Regions from separate parts of the Homo sapiens genome. Here region 1 is linked to region 2. Evidence: fine-mapped expression QTL. A gene starts in region 2. The other region holds a variant in brackets. All regions are shown on one strand. Distances are from middle to middle.

Region 1 (2,599 bases), 23 kb after region 2:
GCGTCAGGTGCACTCCGCCAAGCTGCCAAGCACCATTTAGGGGCCGACGGGGGCAGCTGCCCCATCCCTCCCCCAACCCCTGTATCCCCACCCCGTACTCCCACCCCTCCCACAACCCCTGTACCTCCCACCCCTGTATCCCCACCCCTCCACCCACCCCTCTCCCAACCTCTCTCCCCGCCCCTGTATCCTGCATTCCTCCACCCACCCTCTATCCCCCACCGCTCCACCCCACCACTGTCTTCTCCATCCTTCCACCCCACCCTCAGCGTCTCTGCCCCTAAGGCAGCCCAGGAAATAGGAACTGAGACTCTGGTACCCACAGGAGCCTGGGTGGGCAAAGAGCGCTCAATCCAGCTCCTTGAACCCCTCCAGCCCGCTTCAGCCTGGGCATCACTGCAGGCCCCGTGCTCCTCCTCCTCCTCCTCAGGGCTGGGTCTCCAGAGAGTGGGGCCTTGGTCCTGAGAATCAGCCCTTAGAGGCTCCTTCTGTGTAGTCTGGGTCTGTACTGGGGAGGGTCACAGCCCACGGGCTGGCAGCCAGCCCAGCACCTACTTGTAAAAATTTTGTAATAAAAAGTTTTTCCTAGAGACGTGAAAGGAGAGTGTCTGTGGGGTGGGGCATCCTTGCTGTGGCCTGTGCCCCCACCTTCCCGCTGTTCTAGCCGCACGGGCCTGCCCTTGGTCCTGAGGGTGGACACCATCCCTCCCTACTGCCTTCTGCTCTGGAGCCAGGCCTGGGGCACTGGCTGCTGCCCTGGTGTGCCGTGGCAGCCTAGAGTAGCTGCAGGATGGCTGGCCCGAGGGAATGTTCCTGGGCCCTTGAGTCTTCTCTGGCCAGCAGAGTTCCCCAAAACCATCACATCCAGATCTGCGTTGGTGACCAAGGCCAGACTGAAGGTTGGGTCCTGGTACAGTGAGCCTGGGGGTGAGGGTAGAGGTCAGGGAGGTGGCGGAGAGTGGGTGGCAGCCAGCCAGGCGGCTTCCTAGGGGGCAGTCAGTGCTGGTAGAGACTGGCGGGAGGGCAGGCCCACATCAGGAGGTGGCACAGGGGTGGGAGATGAGATCAGGACCAGGACCCATAGGCAGGAATCTTGCACAGAACCTGGCTGTGGAGCTGAGCCATGCAATGGCACAGGGCACCTTGCCCTTCTCACCTGGGACTGAGTGTCCTGCACCTCCAAAAGGCATCCTGCAGCCCCAGCCAGGCCCTGCAGCCCCTCCCCAAGCCAGTTTTCTCCAGGATGGGAAGGCCTGGTCTTGCCCACTCGCCTCCTCACCTTCCTGGGAAGTGAGCTTAGACACTGTCTCTATGCTCAGTGCCCTGGCGAGGAGGGTGGTGGTTCTTATTCTGCTCTTCCCTCCCCTCTTCACCATTTTTTTTTAAAGTCATTTGATAAACCTGAGGGCAGCCAGCCCCAGCTTTGGAGTTCTGAGACTGGAAGGACCAAGGGGACACCCCGGGTTGGAGGTCTCACTCTTGTTCTCTGAATGACTAGTCAAAGGAGGTTTCTAGTGGGATGGGGTGGGCGTGCTCTTGGGAGGCAACAGGTGAGGTGCAAGGGGGGCATCAGAGATGCCCGTTGTCAGCTGGGCACAGTGGCTCACGCCTGTAATCCCAGC[A/T]CTTTGGGAGGCTGAGGCTGGCGTATCACCTGAGGTCAGGAGTTCAAGACCAGCTGAGGCAACATGGTGAAACCCCGTCTGTACTAAGAATACAAAAATTAGCCCAGCATGGTGGCACGCGCCTGTAATCCCAGCTACTCAGGAGGCAGAGGCACGAGAATCACTTGAACCCGAGAGGTGGAGGTTGCAGTGGGCCGAAATGGCACCACTGCACTCCAGGCTAGGCGACAGAGACGCTGTCTCAAAGAAAAAAAAAAAAAAAGATGCCCATTGTCCTGAGGGAGCTAAAGGGCTGTCACCTGGGGACCCTGAACACCTTGGACAGCTCCCAGCTCCGGTCCTCAGTGGCTCCGGATCACTCTTGCCCCCTGGTGGCCTCACTGAGCGCGGCCGCCGCGGCTCCAGCCAAAGCTGCAGTCGGGGCCGGGGCCGTTCTGTGTTCCTGTATTTGCTTTTCCCGCGAGTGGGGGTGCCCCTGCCTCTGTGGGCACACCTGTGCCTTCCTGTGCACCTGCCCAGCTCGTGAGCACCTGTCTGCGTGCGCCCGGCGCTCCTGTGTCTCTGTGCGCTCGCGAGGCTAGGCCCACACAGGTCCTCTGCCCCATCGCGGGTGCGGGTGAGGGGCTCGGAGTCCTACCGGGAAGAGGCCAGAAGGGAGCGCATCCTGGAGAAGCCCACCCGCGGCCCAAACCCAGCCGGACTTCTGGGAACCGCACCGGCCCCAGAGACCGCAGGTGCCGAGACACCCTGAGGCCGAGAGAGGTCCAGCGAGGCCCGGAGAGGGGACCAGAACTGGAGCAGGGGGAGGGGGCGCAGTCTGGAGCCGCCCTCCCGCCCCCTCAGGTGGAGCGCGCAGGCGCAGTCTCCGCGTGCGCGCCTCGCCGGCGCCTCCATCCCGGATCCTTGCTGCAGCGTCAGCGCCGCCGCCCGTGCCTTTCCTCTTCCTCCTCCTCCTCCTTGGCATCCGCCTCTTCTTC
Region 2 (2,998 bases):
GGACCACAGGCATGCACCACCACGCCTGGCTAATTTTTTAAACTTTTTGTAGAAATAGGGTTGCCTTATGTTGCCCAGGCTGGTCTTGAACTCCCCAGCTCAAGTGATCCTCCCGCCTCGGCCTCGTGCTGGGTTTTTGAGCAGACCAGCCATTAAAGGGGAAGCTGGCTTACAGGACCAAGCTCTGATGGGCTGCTCCAGGCTCAGAGCTTCTTATGTCCTTCCAGCATTCCCTACGATGAAGGAGTCCCACTTAGAGTGAGTGACCCAGAAGAGAAGTGGACCCAGGATACTCCCTGGCCTGGGAAGATGCCTCTACAGCTTGAGACACAGGCACCAGTGGCTCAGGCCTGAGGACAGAGACCCAGGTAGGTATGCCAGCTGAGGCCTGCCCAGGAGGGAGGGTGGGAGACCCGCAGAGGGCCAAGGCAAGTCTCGGATTGGGGGCCTGTCTGGGGAGGGTGTTTGCACCCTGAACACCTCCCTGGAACCTAGAGGGTACTACTGGCCAGCCCTGAGATGGGCTCCCAGGGCTAGAACCCAGGCTAAGGCCTGGTCTCACCTCCCATGTGGACAGACCAAATGAAGACAGAGTGACCAGATCCCAGCTGGAAACACAGCAGAGGCAGGGGGACAGGGCTGCGGGAGCCAGGAGAGCAGCTGGAGGAGGTGTCCAGCCAGGGGAAGGAGGAGAGGAGAGCAAGAGGCAGAGGGAGCTGGTCACTAGATGGGGATCTGGGGACACAGGAGAAAGTGGCTTTGTTCTGCAGCAGGCAGGCCAGGCCAGACTGTCCCGAGGGACCAGAGGAGGAGCCAGCAGCAGTGGGGACAGAAAGGCCTCTGTGAGTGGGAAGCGCCCAGCTGGCTGGAGCCTACGATCCTCTTGGGGCCCTCCTGGTGGAAGAGAAGGGGGCCGCAGGGTCACCTGTGCTTGCGGCCAGGGAACTAGAGGGGAAAAGTGGGATCTTTGGAGGGGGTGCCCCCCCCCATTCTTACCCCACGAGGCTACCTGGAGACAGGTTTTTTTGTAGGGTGCCAGGCCCCGCCCCTTGGAGAGGTGGCCGGGGCAGCCAGCCACAGCTGGATCCGAGAAAGCGCCTGGCCGCGGCAGGAGGTTTGGTGGGGCTGGGGCGGGGCAGAAAGGAAGGTCTGCGAGGCCAGAGTGGAGCAGGAGCTGGGGGATCCGGTTCCGCCTGCCCAGGGCCTCCGCGCGCCTCCCAGGGCCACTCGGCAAGAAAAAAAAAAAAAAAATCAAACCTCCTCTCAGCCTATCAGAGAGCAGATGGGACGGGCTCGGCCAATGGCCGCGGCGCATGTTAATGAGGGCTGACGCCGCGAGGAGGGCCCCATTCAAAAGTAGTCGCTATTGTCGCCGTGGGCTGAGCTCGCCGGGCCGGCCCCTCCGTGGGGCCGCGCTGGGACGCACGCGGGTGGACGAGGGGACCGATCCCGGGCGCCCATGGCCGGGGCCGCCATGGCCGAGCGGGGCCGCGTGCCTCCCCCCGCACCCGCGCCCAGCACGGAGGGGCTGCCGCGCGCCTTCCTGCAGAGCCTGCGCACCCTGTTCGACATCCTGGACGACCGGCGGCGCGGCTGCGTGCACCTGCGCGAGATCGAGTCCCGCTGGCAGGGCACCGACGCGCGGGAGCTGCCCCGCGGGGTGCTGGAGGGCTTGCGCCAGGTGGCCCCGGCCAGCGGCTACCTGACCTTCGAGCGCTTCGTGGCCGGCCTGCGCACCTCCCTGCTGAGCGCCGACGGCGGCCCCCGGGACCCCACGCGCGCCCCGGCCCGGCCCGGGGATCAGCCGCCGCCGCCGCCGCAGCGCCTGGTGTTCGCTCCGGCCGACGAGCCGCGGACGGTCCTGGAGAGGAAGCCCCTGCCCCTGGGCGTGCGCGCCCCTCTGGCCGGTCCCAGCGCCGCCGCCCGCAGCCCGGAGCAGCTGTGCGCCCCGGCTGAGGCGGCGCCCTGCCCCGCGGAGCCCGAGCGGTCCCAGAGCGCGGCGCTGGAACCGAGCTCCAGCGCGGACGCAGGTGAGTTCCGGACGGCCCCCGGGCACCCTCGTAGCTCTCCCGGGCCCGGGCCAGAAACCGCAGTCCCACAGCTGCTGCCCGTGCATTTCCCACAAGGGACGGGACCGGGGAGCGGCTCTTCGTGGACTCCGGATCCTGGAGGGCGCCTCGGCGGGTCTGGAGGGAAAGGGCTTCATGCTTGTCGCGGTGAGCCCAGGGGCTTGCTTAGGGAGGCAAGCCAGACCCTCTCCTGCCACAGCATAAGGCCACCAGGGCCGGGGGGTGGCAGGTGACTCAGAAAACCCACCGGGAGCCCAACCTGTACCAAGCCTGAGCTTGGGCTCTCCATCTCCAATACCCTTTCCGCACCTGGGGACACCTGGGCCCTCAGCCTCCTGTCTGTGGCTGCTCAGGCAGAAGTGCTTCCTTCTCAAAGAAAGGGTCCCCCTTCTCAGTGTGACAGCTTAGCCAGGGGGGCTGGGCCCACTGACCCCACTGAGGCCTAGGCAGGCGGGGGCTGCTGCTGGTGGCCCAAGAGGACCTGGCCCTGTTGCCAAGATGGGCAGGGGCGTGGGTGGATCTCCTGCACCCCAGTGGGGCTGTACTATGGCAGATGCCATGGAGGGACATAGGCCGTAGTCCCTGGGGATGGCTGGCACACTCCTCTCCTGCCTTCCGGTCCAGTTGGCAGTGATGGGAGATTGCTGAATGGTCCCCTGTCTCCCCCAACCCAGTGCCTGCCTTGGGAACAGGACCTGTATTATGGCTGGGGTTGGGGGGCCAAGCTCCCAGAGGGGCCCCAGGCCCCACAGCCCATTCGGCCTGTGCACCCGTTCTGCCAGGGGAGGCCTGCCCACCGGTGGCTCCTGCCGGTCCCTGTGCTGCCTGCTGCTCTGCCACCCTCCCTGTACTGCTCCCCCACCTCAGCCATATTCTCCAGCCCTACAGCTGGTGTTTGGAGCCACGGCGGCCCTGGCCTCCCTGGTGAT

Direction of the effects. Alleles are on the strand shown, and positions count from the first base shown. SD is a standard deviation of normalised expression in the study named.
For the expression in prefrontal cortex of the gene that starts at base 1,363 in region 2, T is the low allele of the variant in region 1 and A is the other (moderate effect, 0.43 SD a copy in BrainSeq).

What was found. PIP is the estimated chance that this variant, and not a neighbour inherited with it, causes the effect. A credible set is the group of variants that fine-mapping cannot tell apart.
Region 1: its variant is the best candidate, but not a certain one, in a credible set for the expression of SAPCD2 in prefrontal cortex (BrainSeq, PIP 0.73).

The regions. Positions count from the first base shown.
Region 1 is chr9:137,046,098-137,048,696 of GRCh38, reverse strand. NPDC1 (neural proliferation, differentiation and control 1) reads left to right here and starts at 2,520. Exons shown (of 9, transcript NM_015392.4): 1 at 2,520-2,599. It overlaps ENTPD2 (ectonucleoside triphosphate diphosphohydrolase 2), which reads left to right. Exons shown (of 9, transcript NM_203468.3): 9 at 1-590. The coding sequence ends at 40. RefSeq lists enhancers at 1-53, 1,786-2,455. The variant A/T (reference allele first, on the strand shown) is at 1,623.
Region 2 is chr9:137,068,922-137,071,919 of GRCh38, reverse strand. It overlaps SAPCD2 (suppressor APC domain containing 2), which reads left to right and starts at 1,363. Exons shown (of 6, transcript NM_178448.4): 1 at 1,363-2,030. The coding sequence starts at 1,460. RefSeq lists an enhancer at 222-1,201 and silencers at 1,306-1,715, 1,886-1,935, 1,986-2,035.